Regions from separate parts of the Homo sapiens genome. Here region 1 is linked to region 2. The links come from fine-mapping of genetic effects on gene expression. Tissue or cell type: whole blood. Region 2 holds a variant in brackets; the other region holds the start of a gene. All regions are shown on one strand. Distances are between the middles of the regions.

Evidence for each region. PIP is the estimated chance that this variant, and not a neighbour inherited with it, causes the effect.
Region 1: it holds the start of APBA1, and the variant in region 2 is fine-mapped to the expression of APBA1 in whole blood (TOPMed, PIP above 0.99).

Annotation. Positions count from the first base shown.
Region 1 is chr9:69,668,758-69,676,865 of GRCh38, forward strand. It overlaps APBA1 (amyloid beta precursor protein binding family A member 1), which reads right to left and starts at 3,614. Exons shown (of 13, transcript NM_001163.4): 1 at 3,396-3,614. RefSeq lists silencers at 3,382-3,461, 3,642-3,691.
Region 2 is chr9:69,941,136-69,949,243 of GRCh38, forward strand. No RefSeq gene overlaps it. Among named protein-coding and RNA genes, the nearest start is that of MAMDC2, 99 kb to the right of the region's middle. The variant T/G (reference allele first, on the strand shown) is at 4,575.

The sequences.
Region 1 (8,108 bases), 270 kb before region 2:
TGTTTCCTGTGTAGGCATACACCTTCCACTGCCAGGCCTGTGCTACACTGTTCCTCCCCCAAGCATGCCCTTCCTTCTCTGCCAACCCAAATGCCACCTTAATCACAGCTCAAATGCTATATCCCATGTAACCTTCCCTAATTCTTCCATCAGAAGTCACTTTGTACCCTGTGAACTCCCACAGCTCTGCAGGAATACTGCTTTTTCAGCACTTAATCATTTTTCACTATTTTTACAGTTAGTAACATATTTCCTCTTTTCTCCTTCTAGATCATGATCCACCTCTGGCCAGGATCTAAGACTTAGCATTCTTTGAACCTCCAACCCTTCTCAACATTCCCTGTCCCCTATCCAAAGGTACAGTGGATCTGAGATGCGGGAGGCAATTAACAAATGTTTGCAAATTAATTATTGTAACCCAGAGAGTTAACTTCAGATTTTACGGCTTGAAATTCTCTCAATTTTAGCAACAATTACTTCTTCTTTCTAGGATAAAAGTCCTATCTCCCCAAGGTACTACAGTTAATTCCTTTTGGCCCCAGAGGTCAATTTTCAAATATCTCTTACCCCTAAGTCTTCCGAAACAAACAAACACAATAACAACAAAACAAAACAAAACAACAACAACAAAAAACCTTAAGAGGCTCAATAATGGAAGAGAAAAGCACTGATGCTACTTTAAGTGAAGGAAAGGCATCCATGCACAAAAAATGGCTTGCTGCAGGCCACAGCAAAAGGTACCACCATTTATTAGAGCTGTCTCATTAACCTTATACCAGTCCGATCTTTAGAAAAGCCAGATATTGCATTTTTAAAACTATCAGCCTGGGCAGCATAGCGAGACTCTATCTCTGAAAAAAATAAACAAATATCTGGGTGTGGTGCCATGTGCCTATTGTCCCAGCTACTCAGGAGGCTGAGGCAGGAGGATTGCTTGAGCTAGGAGTTTGAGGCTGCAGTGAGCTATGATCACACTACTGCACTCCAGCCTGGGCGACAGAGGAAGATCCTGTCTCAAAAAGACAAATAAAAATAAAAATGATCACATTTACATTAGAAAAGAACTGATTCCTGAGTCATCGATTTTGCTGCTGTGTAATTCCTCTTTCTCTAAACAGGGTATTTACCTGGTAATTCCTCATATTATTAAACTTTCTTGTGAGACATTTACATCCCTGGTCTTACTTGCAAATATAAAGGATGATGACTTTTTTTTAAACCAAAATCTCTTAGAATGGCTTTTAAATTCCCTAAGTACTTTTCTCAGAAAGACATTTGGCATAACAAATAAGAGAGTAAAGAACTAAGATTCAAAATTCATTTTTATAAATCTATCCTTAAATCTTGGATGACAGCCAACAACCAACCTCACATTAAAATCTTAGAAGGCTTGACTTGAAGAACATGGGGAAATTTACTTTACATAGACAGCTTCAAGAGCACCTTGTCTATATATCATTAAATAAGATACATGGGAAGAAAAAAAAGCATATGTGGATAGCCCTAGTTTTATTATTTTCACAACGATATCATGCAATCTTTGCCCATAAAAGAAAGCAAAACAAAAATTTTAAAAAAGAAAAATAAATCTCTGGTGCCAACATGTTGTATATTTACTTGTGTAGCCATGACTGCTACGGGCTTTTCGAAGAGAACCGGGCAGCCAGTTTGGATTCCGACAATGCAGTAGAATTTAAGGTGTTATGACTAAAACATGTCCTAAGCAGATTAAGCTAGTCATACAACATTTTAATAAAGAAGTGTCGAGATATTAAGTGTAAAGTGCACTCATTCCTATGAATACCGCAGGAGAAACATAGGTGAGGGGGAATCACACTGCCCTGGATACACATGAATATGCCATCTCCCTGCCTACCTCTACCCAACCCTACCTACACACACCTATCTTTACCACGCAGAGACAATTAAACAGCCATAGACTCTGGATGCATTTCTGTGTCCTTGTTCCCACTGGGTGAGTTGTTGCCAGCCTGACATTTTTCCAAATTCCCTACTAGTGGGCTCTATCAGGTAGGAAAGCAGGGACTTTACTGACCTGGGACCCCATCGCTGTGGGTCTCAGGAGATTTCAGTTTCCAAATGATACACGGCACCACCTAGCTATTGTGACAGCTGGGAGAGTGGATGTCACCAGCAGTAGAAATAAAGTATCCTGTTTCCTGAGGAAAACGCCCTGGCTGTGTGATGCTGACCAAGTGGGCACCAAACATTTCTCCGTGTGATATTTTTCTTCTTTTTAAAAGACCGCCCCCCGCCCCACCGCATCTCTCTATACGTATACACCTCCAGAGTTCATTCTAAAAGAACCAACACAAAGACCATCCATCCTCTAGCCATAAGGTTTTCAGTGCTTAAATGTGGAAGGAGAAGGTCTAGCTAGCATTGAAAGTTGTGGGGACAGGAAGAGGAATCTGATCATTCAACATCCTTCTCCTTCTGGTCAGACAAGAGAAAAACAATAGAAACTGCACAGTCAGGGAGTACAAGACCCTTATGGAACAGGTGCTAAGGAGAGAAGTAGTATCACAGGATGGAAGGCCCCTTCAAAACCAGGTACATTAGCAAGCCCAGAATGTGTAACGGTTATCCTATTTCCCTGCCATGTGCCTCAAAGCAACATGCTCACTTCCACATCCCCATGTCATGAGGCCAGAGGAAGGGGAAGCGAGAATCCCTACACTGGGCCATCCACACGCAGGAGCAGAACAGACACTGTGCTCAGAGTTGCAGGGTCAAAATAACAAACACTGTCCCACAGTCTTAGCCGGTGACATCAAGTAAGGGCAGCGGCAGATCTCTGGATTTGGGGCGCAGTTTGGGGAACGTGGATGCAACCACACGCGTACACACACATATACAGGATTTTACAAACCGGCCCCTATCCCACTGCCTCCCTCCACACTTCACACACCAAGTGCATCCTGCCCACCTCACCGTTTCCATCATCACATTCTTTCTCCAGGAGAGTCAGCCGAGAGATGAGGGGGTCCTAGCGGGGATTCCTGGAAATGTCACCCCCCAACACCTCCGTCCGCCACCCCATCCCCTCTGCTGTACCTTTTACACACACACTCTCACACACTCACTCCTGCCATGACTGTCATCAGGCCCGCCTGCTGCGCCCGAAGCCCGGCATCTCAGCGGGCACCGGACCCCAGGCGTCTCGCTCGCAACGCCGCCTTCCCCCGCCTCGCTAGCTGATGGTTCCAGGCACTGCCTCCTGGATGTCGCCTGCTGCCTCCGCTCCTCCGCACTATTGTTCCAGGCAGCCCCTCTCGCGTCCGGGGGCGCCCTTTGGCGAGGACCCGGGCTCCGTCGGGGGCCGCATCAGCGCCGGGCACCCCTTCTCACCCACCCCTCCCTGGCTGTGGTACCTTGCCTGACAGCTGGGTCCGCGGGCCCGCGGGAGCAGGCGGCGCTAGTGACAGCGCTGGTGCCAAGCCTGGGAATAAAGCTCCGCTCCAGCCGCTGCTGCCTCCAGCGCCACCATCTTCTCCCGCCGCAGCTGCCGCCGCCGCCGCCGCCGCCGGGACCGCAGCCGCCCTCGCCCAGCTCCGGCTCCGCAGCCGCTGCTCGGACCCCTCCGGTCTCGCGGCCCCACCCCCTTTCCCCACCCTCCCTCCCGCCCTCCAGCTAGCTCGCTGGCCCCTCGTGACGCGCGCTGGGGCCGGGCGGGCCTGCGAGGGAGGGCGCGGGGGAGCGCGCGCGCGCACGCCGCCTGCTAGTAGCGCCCCTGCCTCCCTCGCCCACTCGCGTGCGCGCGCGGCCCGCGAGCCCGCGGCGGCGGCGGCGGCACCGCTGATGTCCTCCGTGGGCCGCCGGCTGCAGCGCCCCTGCCCCGGCGCCGGTGGGCGTGCGGCACACCCGCGCCTCTCGCCTTCCCTCGCGTCCGGGTTCCGAAGGGCCCGCCCTGCCTTTCGGAATGGGTTCCACAGCCCCATCCTCTGGCTCCCGGCCGGACGCAAGGAGGGGAAAATGCAGCTGCATCCCCGAGGGGACTGACGGGGGCCTCCACCCTCCTCGGTGGCAACCCAGGTGGTCCCCAGTTTCCTAGCCAGCAGCTGTGGCCAACCTCTGCGCGAAGCAACGGGCCACGCTGCAGGACCACGAAGCCAGGCAGCCGCGTCGACTCCTGCAGGGTGTTCTCTCCGGAGTGACTCCCGAGCTTTCCCGCTTCCCAGGCCCCTTAGATATCGCCTGCGCTTCAAATTCGGAGATTGACGGCGTCTCCGGAATGCGTCGCAGTCCTGCGAGTTCTCCGCCAGGGGGAGAGCCGCGCGGGCTTGGGCCTGAGCGAAGACAGCCGGGCTGCAGCCCTCCAGGGGAACTGCCGAGTCCCGCCGGGGACAGCGGAGAGCCTGCGGATTGTGAAGCCGAGGAAGGCTCGGCTTGGTTTTCCTACCCGCTCCTCAGTTCTGGTTGATCGGAACTTAAGTGTCTTTGAGCCTAGCACAGGCCATCCGCCCTAGATATGGCTCCTAACTCGAGAGGCCACCCTTTGCGGCAGGGACCAGGTGGCAAGTGCTGTGCATTAATGAAAAGCTGTGGGCTAGACAGGCCCCGGGAGGCCTGGGCTCTGGCGCCAGCCCCACCTGTAATTGGCAATGCAATAGCTAAATCATTCCCCCTCTTAGAAACACAGATTTTTCCATAATAATGTTATAATGCACAAAGCCTTGTAGTTTGCAAAGCCCTCTCCGCACATGTATTCTCCAGTAAAATGAAGATAAGCGCTGGTTATCCAGATCCCTTGGGAAATGGATCTTTTACCACACCGTGTTTCCATATTATTTTAAGCACGTCTCTAGAGAAGTCTGGGGGTGTAGCCTAAAGCATTCTGAAAGTCTTGTTTTAGCTTTAAAATTCATATGAATTTTGCATTGTACTTTGTAATTTTTTTTTGCTTTAATAAAACAATAGCTACCTTCTCAAAAAGATTTTAGTAAAATTTAAAATTATATACTAGGAAGATGTCTGCTTGTCCTGTGACATTACTCATATTTTTTCCGGTGAATACTTATTTGGCATATGTACGAGCCAGACATGGTCCTTTTCCACCAGAGCTCACAGTACGCTGAAGGAAATAGGTATTCAACTATCAGACTGGCCAGGCGCGGTGGCTCACGCCTGTAATCCCAGCACTTTGGGAGGCTGAGTCCAGCAGATCACTTTAGGCCAAAAGTTTGAGATCAGCCTGGTCAACATGGCGAAACCCTGTCTCTACTAAAAACACAAAAATTAGCCGGGCGTGTTGGTGCACGCCTGTAATCCTAGCTACTCGGGAAGCTGAGGCACGAGAATGCTTGAACCGGGAGGCGGAGGTTGCAGTGAGCCGAGATCGCGCTACTGCACTCCAGCCTTGGTGTCTCAAAAAACAAACAAACAAATAAAACAATCAGACTAAGTGCAACTGTGATAAATTCTCAACTGCAAAGGCGCTAAGGTGCACGGGAAAACCTAATGTGGACTCTGGGACTAGGTAAGGCTTTCTAAGGAAATGACATTTCAGATCCCCCAGGAGAGGCAGCATTGAGACACTTCCAGGTAAAGGGAAGGAAATGTGAAAAGGCCCAAGCAGGTGGGGCCGAAGTGAGATGAGACTGGAGAGGCAGGCAGACTTTGTGGACCGTTTTTAAATAATGATTTTGTCTTATGAGCCTGGAAAGTCAATGAAGGGTTGCCAAGAGTTGGGAGCAGGCAAGCAGGATCACATTTCCGTTCCTGAAAGATGGCTGAGGTGGTTTGTGAGGAACTGATTCGTGGAGGGTCAGGATCCAGGGCGGAGAGAGTCTGAGCTTATCCTACTTAGTGAGTGTTTAGGGTTTTCTGTTTTTGCACTAACTGCTCTTTTGATTGTTTTTAGTTCTTGCCTCTGCTCTCCTGTGTACGCATCTAGGAGGCTTTCAGAGTGCTTCTCTGTAATAGTTTCTGTTTTGTTACTTTTAATCCACTGCAGTTTTAGGAAGGAAATGAACCCTGTTAGAATTTCAGGTTAAATAAGAGAATATAGGTTCTGAGTGAGAGGCTCTTTTCTGTGCATACACTTATTGCCATTTGGTTTGCTATCTCAGAGATCTTTCTGCTTATTTTCTACTTTTTGTGTTGCCTTTCCAGTTAGACTAGGTTCTTAGATGCATGAATAAGGGTTACATTATTGCTTTAATAATATCCTGGAATCTTACCTCGCAGGATTTTTGTGTAAAGAAAGTTATGTGAAATTTCTCTGCAAAGTATTCAGTGCCATATAAAGAAAGGTAATAATTGTTAGTTATAATGGTAGCTTAGAGACCTCCAAAACTAATTACTTACCAAATGTTCATATGTGGAAATTTCCCTCCCTCCCCCACCCCCATGAAAAACACATATTCCTATTTCTTCTGGATAGCATGAATCATTGTCTTAAGTGCTCTTGTTACTCTGTGCCTTCGCTGGCAGGAAACTCAAAGCCAAATTTTCAGATCATTGTAGGAAATGAGTGGATCCATATGGCATGTAGATCCATGTCTTAATCCCTCCTTTGGTCTTGTTCTATTCTATTTATAGATTTCCTGTGCCTGCTTTATTGATGTTTTTCTTTTTAGTAGATCTCTTATAAGGCACTCCAATCCACCACTCCAATCCACCTTCTCCTGTTAACAGGGTCGAAACTGCTATTCAAGTGTTTCAGGAAGCAGTATATAAAATACTGGCAGCCAGGCATGGTGGCTCATGCCTGTAATCCCAGCACTTTGGGAGGCCAACGTGGGAGGATTGCTGGGGAGTTCAAGACCAGCTTGGGCAACATAGTAAGACCCCCGTCTCTCAAAAAAAAAAAAAAATTAGTGGGCATGGTGGCGAATTCCTGCAGTCCTAGCTACTTGGGAGGCTGAGATGGGAGGATTGCTTTAATCCAGGAGGTTGAGGCTGCAGTAAGCTATAATTGTGCCATAGCATTTCTGCCTGGGTGATAGAGCAAGACCATGTCACTAAAAATAAAACACTGGCAACCTGCCAACCATTGAAGCAGGTAACAATAGTATAGACACTGTGCCAAGTGACTTGGGTTTAAAGTAAAGCCTTAACCACCACTGCATGTGCACCTAAAGTCTCCGTGCATGCCAGTATAAAACCTCATATTATTGGCAAACTTAAGTATGTCTCCCAATGGCTCATAGATAATCTCCTTTAGTTTAATCTCTGAGGTCCCAAACTCCATCAGCCTACACTATACCAATACAGACGGTTCCTGTCTTATGATGGTTCGACTTAGAAGTTTTTGACCTTACTTTTGGGCTTATCAGGGTATTAATTTTTTTTTTTGTCAGTGCCTCACTCTGTTGCCCAGGCTGGAGTACAGTGGTGCAGTCTTGGGTCACTGCAACCTCTGCCTCCCGGGTTCAAGCGATTCTCCTGCCTCAGCCTCCCTAGTAGCTGGGACTATAGGCGCCCACCACCATGCCCGGCTAATTTTTGTATTTTTAGTAGAGACAGGGTTTCACCATTTTGGCCAGGCTGGTCTCAAACTCCTGACTTCAAGTGATCCACCCGCCCTGGCCTCCCAAAGTGCTGGGATTACAGGCGTGAGCCACTGTGCTTGGCCTTAAATGCATTTTTGACTTATGTAACCCCACCATAAGTCAAGGAGTATCTGTATATGTTACCGTCACAAGCACTGTTGGTCACTTGGTAAAAGGACAGAGATTCAAAAACTTTTATTCATTTAGGGTTATTTTTATCAACAAAGACTTGAAGATTCCATGATTCACTACATCCATTCAAACTCTGCAAGAGTGTGACCATATCTTCCAGCTTTTGATATGGTTCTGGATAGCTTAAATTAGACATCCTTCTTCTGACATAAGTTGATACTTTTCCTTGATTTCAAGTTCTTTAGTGATTACCCTCTTTCTGTATCAGTCCTTGAGTTTATGAGCTGAGGTTGTATGTAAGACAAGCATAGAACAACCTTCGGTAATCTGGTTTCTCTTGAGGATTTCAGTTCTGCTAATATTTAATAATCCAGCATAATTCCTAACATATTGTATAGCCTTTTTGGTCACAGGATTTAAAGTGTATGAAAGAAATACACAATTATGACATGTATGTAT
Region 2 (8,108 bases):
ACTGTATTGACTTTACAGAGATGAAAAGGTTTGTAAATAAATATCATAAATAATTGTAAGCCTAAAAATTAAATAGGTGAGATGAAATGGACAAGTTCCTAAAGAGACTCAAACTATTGAAAATAACTCAAAAATAAATAGATGCTTGAATAGACATATAATGAATGAAGAGATTGAGTTTTGGAAAACAAAAACAAAAACAAAAACAAAAAACCACAAAGAAAAGCCCAGACCCAGATGGCATCACTGCTCAATTCTACCAGACATTTAAGATTTAAAGAAGAATTAATGTCAATTCTCCAAAACTCTTCAAGAAAATAGATGAGGAAACATTTCCCACCTTGTTTTATGTTCCCTGTATTGCTCTGATATCCAAACCAGAAAAAGACATCCCAAGAAAACTATAGACCAATTTCTTATGAATATAGACGCAAAAGTTCTCAACAAAATATTAACTAAAAGAATTCAGAAACTTATAAAATAAATTATACACGTGACCAAGTGAGATTTATTCCAAGAATGCAAGATTGGTACAGTAGTGTAATACAACGTATTAATAGAATAAAAACAAAAAAACACACAATCATCTCAATTAATACAGAAAGAATATTTGACAAAATTTAACAGCATTCCATGATTTAAAAACTATCAACAATGAGAAATAGAAGAAATTTTTTTCAACCTGATGAAGGGCATCTACAAAACCTGACATTATTATATAGCTAACATTATACTTAATGATAAAAGAGTGGCAACTTTCTCCCCAAGATCAGGAACAAGAGAACGTCAACTCTTACCACTTCTATTTAATATTGTATTGGAGGTTCTAGCCAGGGCAATTAGGCAAGAAAATGAAATAAAGGACATTCAGATTGGAAAGGAAGAAGTAAAACTATTTCTATTAGTAGATAACATAGTCTTGTATGTAGAAAATCTTAAGAAATCCACCCAAAATGATTAGAACTAATGAACAAGTTCACCAAATTTGCAGGATACAAATTAGTTGTATTTTTATACACATGCAATGAATGATCCAAATGGAAACTAAGAAAACAATACTGGCTGGGTCTGGTGGCTCATGCCTGTAATCTCAGCACTTTGGGAGGCTGAGGCAGGAGGATTGCTTGAGCCCAGGAGTTCGAGACCAGCCTGGGCAACAAAGTGAGACCCTGTCTCTAAAGAAAAAAAAAAAGGAAAAGAAAACAATCCCATGCATTAAAAAGAATAAAATATTAAAATACTTAGGAACAAATTTAACAAAAGAAGTGTGGTATTTATACCCTGGAAACTATATAGATAGATAGATGGGAATCAACCCATATTCATGCATCAGAAAACTTAATATTGTTAAGATGGCAATATTCCACAAACTGGTCTACAGATTCAACACTACTCCTATCAGAAGCCCTGTGGATTTTTTTTTTTGTAGAAATTGACAAGCTGATTGTAAAATTCATGTATAATTGCAAGGAAACAAACATAGCCAGAAAAATCCTGAAAAAGAATAAAATAGGAGGACTCACACTTCCCAACCTCAAAACATACCACAAAGCAATGGTAATGAAGACTGGCAAAACAATAGATATATGGACCAATAGAATAGAATGGAGAGTCCAGAAATAGATGCATACACTTATGGTCAACTGATTTATGACAAGGGTGCCATGACCTTTCAATGGGAAGATAAGAATCTTCTCAACAAATAGTGCTGGTACAACTGGATAACTGCAGATGAAGGAATAGAGTCGGACTCTCACCTAACGCCATAAAAAAAAAAACAGCTCAAAATAGATCAAAGACCTAGATATAAGAGCTAAAATGATAAAATCGTTAGAAGAAAACATAGTATATCTTCATGACCTTGAATTTGACATAGCATTCTTATATATGGCACCAAAACCAAGGACAACAAAAGAAAAAATAAATTAATTGGACTTTATCAAAATTAAAAAATTTTATGCATTGCAGGACACTGTCAGGAAAGTGAAAGACAACTCACAGAATGGGAGAAAATATTTGCAAATCATACATCTGATAAGGAATCTGTATCTAGAATGTAAAGAACCTTTATGACTCAATGTAAAAGTAAAATAACCCGATTAGAAAATGGGCAAAGGGTCTTAATAGACTTTTCTCTAGAACCATATTCAGATGGCCAGTAAGCACATGAAAAGATGATTTACATCGTTAGTCATCAGGGAAATGCAAATTAAAACCAGAACGAGATATTACTTCACACTGACTGGGATGGCTAGAATAAAAAAGTTAAATAATGACAACAAATGTTGCTGAAGATGTAGAGAAATTGGAACCCTCATATACCACCAGTGGGAATGTAACATGGTTCCACTGCTGTGGAAAACAGTCTGGCAGTTCCTGACATAATTAAACATAGAGTTACCATATGCCCCAGCAATTCTAATCCTAGGTATATAAGAGAAAAGAAAACATATGTCCATGCAAAAACTTAAACACAAATGTGCATAGCAGCATTATTCATAATAGCCCAGAGGTGGAAATAACTCAAATGTCTATCAGTAAATGAATAAACAAAATGTGGTATATTCATACAATGGAATATTATTTCAGCCAATACAATGGAGTACTAACACCTGCTATAATTTGGATAAACCTTGAAAACATGCCAAGTGAAAGAAGCCACTTACAAAAGACCACGTCAGTTGATTCCATTCATATGAAAGCCCAGAATACAGAAATCTATGGAAACAGAAATTGGATTAGTGTTTGCTTAAGGCTGAAGAGGGAATGGGTGGATATGAGGGTGGTATCTAGAGACTGTAACCATTTGGAGTTTCTTGTTGATGTGATAAAAATGTCATAAAATTGACTGTGGTGAAGGTCGCACATATCTGTGAATATACTAAAAACCATTGAAGTGTAGACTTTAAATGAGTGAATTGTATGGTTTGTGAGTTATATCTAAATAGAGTTGTTTAAACATAAATGAAAGGGTTGATGAGAAAGGGAAGAGAAACAGATGAATAAAATATGTAAAATAATGCGGTACTAAAACCTAGGAAAATATTGGCCAGTGTGGGCTTTTCAGAGGCAGTGAGGGAAGGATGCTTCATCACTGGGTTACCTGTGACCTTTATTGAAATGCTGAAGTCACACTGAAAATGATAAATATACATGCAGATTTACCTCCTTAATATATTGAAATAGAAGAAATTCAGAAACAGAGATTATAAAGCTTTCTTATATTTATTTAAGTGTCCACAGTCTTCCCAGGGTTCCAAAGCATTTGCACATCCTGCTTAAAACTTATAGTGTCCTTGTAAGGTCCAGTGGTAATTAAGAATTATCACTGTTGTATTTAGAGAAAGAAGGCATAGAAAATTTATGATTTTACCCTGCATATATTCCTGGATATTATTTCATTTTAAAAACTTATGTTGTCCTCCAATAAAAAGTAAGCTCCATGATTCATTTATTCAACAAATGTTTATCAAAACCCTGAAGTGCTCCAAGCACTGTTCTATGTGCTTGGGGTACCTTAGAGACCAAAACACAAAATTGTATATCCTCATGGAAGATGCATTCTGTTAAGGGAAAACAGACAACAATCAATAAACATAATAAATAAATAGATTGTAATGTGTGTTTGAAAGTGGCTAGTTTTATGGAGAAAATAGACCATGAGAATATTGGCTTACTGTGTTTTTATCTGTGCCAACCCTGGTACCCAGAGGAGCACTGGTCCAGAGAAGCACAATGAATATTTGTTGAATAAATGAATGAATGAATAGATGCAGTTCAAACTGTATGTTTGGCTTCTAAAGATTTACAGTTTGTACTTTTGGATTGGTTTTCCTTAAAAAAAAATCACTGTAGCTATAGAAAGAATTTAACATCTGTCCCCCTTCCCATTCGGCTTTGCTCTCTAAGAGGAGGAGAAATGTAGTGGTTAAGCACGAAAATCTCCAGAGCCAGACTGTATGGATTCAAATGCCAGATTTACTACTTATTATTTCTGACAACTTTAATTATGTTTATATCAATTTTAAAATTACATTCATTTCATTCAACTACAATTTAAGGCTCTGTGTTTTGAAGACCTCCTTGCTACAGACACTTTCGATGTTGTGTGTTAACTTCATCTTTATAATTCCCTTGAAATCTTACATGTAATCAACATTTATTATGTGTCAGTTGTTTACAAGAAACTGTACTGGGTCTGTACTGGGTCCTAAAGGTATCATATAATGATGCGCCTGTCATAGGTGATGTTGATGGACCTTTAGGTCTGTCAATTGGAAACTTGATGCATCTAGATTCTATGCAAGATATGAACTCTTTTGTCAGCTAAGAGTGTCTCATTCACATCTAACATCCTCAGAACCTTACACAGTGATTGGTACATATATGGCACATTTTTTTATGAATAAAGAAAAAGTTATGATTTAGTAATACCACTCACATACATACACACACAGCACACATTTGCAACTGATTGGGCATCCTGTTTAGTATATATCTGGGCCTGGGTCTGAGGTTGGCCCACTTAGATCTGGACTCCCTTTCAGAGCAACAAAGTCTACATGGACTTTGTA[T/G]GTGACTTGTAGCTTGGCAGCAGCCCAGGAAACTGCTTCTCTATCTTAGACATCAGCCAGCCTTGAGGGAAGTTCAGAGAGTAACTCTCTCCTTCCTTCCTTGGATGCACTGTTGCAACCCTCCCTTGTGGGCTGGTTGTTCATTTTTGTGTTTTGGTTACATTCTCTTATTTCTTCATCTTTTTTTTTTTTTTTTGGTTCTGCTTTAAAAGTAAAACAACAGTAGGGTTTGTGAAGACATTGCAGATGGTAATTTATTAGCTGTGATATAATGGTATCAGGAAATAGCTAGCTCTTTGGCTGTTTATTTCCCTCGTGGTGGATGGAAAGAGTAAGTATAGCAATGTTTCAGTTGCTATGGATACCAAGTCTTTGAGATAATAGAATCCTTTTAACATAATCCAGTTCTATTAGATTGGCTTTTCTCTTGAATGTTACATCTACCAAGCATACTTTCTTTTCTCAGTACAAAAATTTATATCCCTTTCTCTCAATATCGGGAAGTGTTATTTTAATTTTTCCTCCAATTTTGCCCTGCAGTTTATCTTTTTCCTATGTCTCCTCTTTCCTACATCAGAAAAGATGACATGGAAAAGTAAACCATATATCTGTCTTTCCCTCTAGCTAAGCGGAAAACTGATTTAGTTTCACACAATTATATGCAAGTACTGCAACATAATTTGTCCAGGTGTGATGTTTAAATCTTTTTAACTCAAACCACAAAAATGGGGTTAATTATAAAAGGCATATAAACATCTCCTCAACATTCCATTGGTTCATTGAGTCAGATGTCTTCAAAATAGAATCTCTTTGGGATGTATAATTTTGAGTACAGCATTAAGTAAATGACTGTTGCAGAGGAAAAAAAAAGTCAAGTGTTCAAAAGAAAACTCAAAAAGTGGCAGCTCATAGTTCATGGATATAAGAAAATTCTACTCCCATGTGTGAAGTAGTCAGACTCCTTGCTAAAAACATACATTTTAAAAAGTCTAAAATGTTAGTTAAATCATAATTCATCTTTTTTTTGAGAAATCATTTTAGTAAATTTATAACAACACTAATTTTTTGAACTCTTGCTTCGGTCTCTCATTCCTAATTCTATCTTGTATTTATCTTTACAGAGGGATTCAGTTCATTATATACATTTGAAATTCTGTGCAATAAATATTTTTTTGCACTGTCATGCTAGAATCTGTCATGCTGAAGAAGAAATGGCCAGTGTATGTGTCATGAGGCTGGATTTTAGTCCCAGCTCTTCCTGTGCTTGTGTGGCCTCAAATGAGTCATTTAACCTCTTGGGTCTTAATTTCATCATCAAAAATTCGAGGTCAGACTACATTATTTTCCAGAGCCCCTTGACATCCCAAAATGTCTACATTGCTTTGAAATCTATCCACATCTCCAACTGATTTCCAGCATCAAGGTTAGAAACTGTTTTAAATAGGCTTACTGAGTTCAAAACCAAATAGAAAAGAGAAAGTCTTAGAAGTACAAGCCTGCCAGCAACCTTATTTCCATCCTGCACTGTACTGACAAGAATTTTAAATTTACAGTGGAAAACAGGAATTAGACCATATTTAGGTAGCTAGTTTCAAAACCTTTATTGTTGGTGATATTTTCTCCAGATGGAAAGTAGGTATGTAAAAGTAATCTTGGCTACAGCTAATATTTATTGTTCCTGTAGTAAATTCCAGACACTTTGCTGAGTGCTTTGTGTGGTTCAGCCCATCAAGCCTCGCAGCAACACTATGAGGCAGGTATTATAATGTTCATTTTATACATGAAAATGAACACAATAAGGAATGAAAATCTAAGTCGTTTGTCCTAAGTGGCTCAACTAGTAATTGGCAGCCCCAGGATTTAAATTCATGCTGTCTGACTCTGTCTAGAGTATATAAATACTATAATGCACAGATTTTTTTTTTTTTGGTGCATGTGTGGCTTATACAGTTGTTCCTTGAACAACACGGGTTTGAATTGTGCAGGTCCACTTATATTTTTTTCCATCAACTGCAGATTGAAAATACAGTATTCAAGGGATGTGCAACCTGTGTATACAGTGGGCTGACTTTTCCTATATGTGGGTTCTGCGGGGTCAACTGTGGGACTTGAGAATGTAGCAATGGTCCTGAAAAGAATCCCTCATGTATATCGAAGGATGATTGTATATTCTTTTTTGTTGTTGTTTTGATTTGCTTTGAGACACAGTCTCACTCTGTTTCCCAGGCCAGAGTGCAGTGTCATGATTGTAGCTCACTGTTACTTTGACCTCCTGGGTTCAAGCAGTTCTCCCACCTGAGCTTTCTGAGTAGCTGGGACTAGATGCTCATGCCACCATGCCCAGCTAATGTCTTCCTTTCAAAATTTTTTGTAGAGACAAAGTCTCCCTATGTTGCCCAGGCTGGTCTCTGACTCCTGGCCTCAAGCAATTCTCCTGTCTTGGCCTCCCAAAGTGTTGGGATTATAGGTGTGAGCCATCATGCCTGACCTATATATTCTTTATATGTTCTGACAAAAACTCATTATCTCCTTTGCATTCCCCAATCCAGTTCTTCTCTGCATGCCTGATCTCAGTGAAAGGCACTACTTGCACTAATGACACAAGACAGACACCTGGAAATTACACTTGATACCTCCCTTCCCCTCACTTCACTTACCATCCATGCAACCCATCACTAAGTCCTATCAACGACATTTATTAAATAGCTCTCAAAATGCATGTATCAAAGTCCCAGAGAAAACCTGGAATACTAAAAGAATTTTACCTAAGGGATTTTAATGAAGGGACTATGTATAGATATGTGGGAAAACCTAAGAATCTGCAAGAAATGGTGGAGCACCAGTGGACTAGCAATAGTGGATGCTGTTAGCATCTTTATGGGTTGAATTGTGTCCTCCCAAAAAAGACATATTGGAGTCCTAAGCCCCAATATCTTGGAATGTGACTTTATTTGGAGATAGATCCTTTTTACAGAGGTAATCACTTTAAAATGAGATCATAGGGTGGATACTAATCCAATATGACTGATGTCCTTATAAAAAAGGAAAATTTGGATACATAGAGATACACATACACAGGGATACTGCCATGCGAACACAAAGGCAGAGATCAGGGTGGTGCGTCTGGTATGCCAAGGAACACAAAAGATTGTCAGGAAGCCACTAGGAGAGTGGCATGGGACACATTCACCCTCACAGCTGTCAGAAGGAACCAACCTGCCAGCTCCCTCCCACAATTTTTTTTTTTTTTTTTTTTTTTAGACAGGGTCTCACTCATGGCCAGACTGGAGTGCAATGGTACAATCATAGCTCACTGCAGCCTTGAGCTCCTGCACTCAAGCCATTCTCCTGCCTCAACCTCCCAAGTAGCTGGAACTGCAGGCATGAGCCCCTGCACCCAGCCCGGATGACATCTTGATCTCAGTCTTCTTAATTCTATAATGCTAGTTTGTGGTACTTTGTTATGGCAGCTCTAGCAAACTAATACAGCATCCTTTGGCCTGAAGGTGCATGGGAAGAGGACAGTATTCCAGG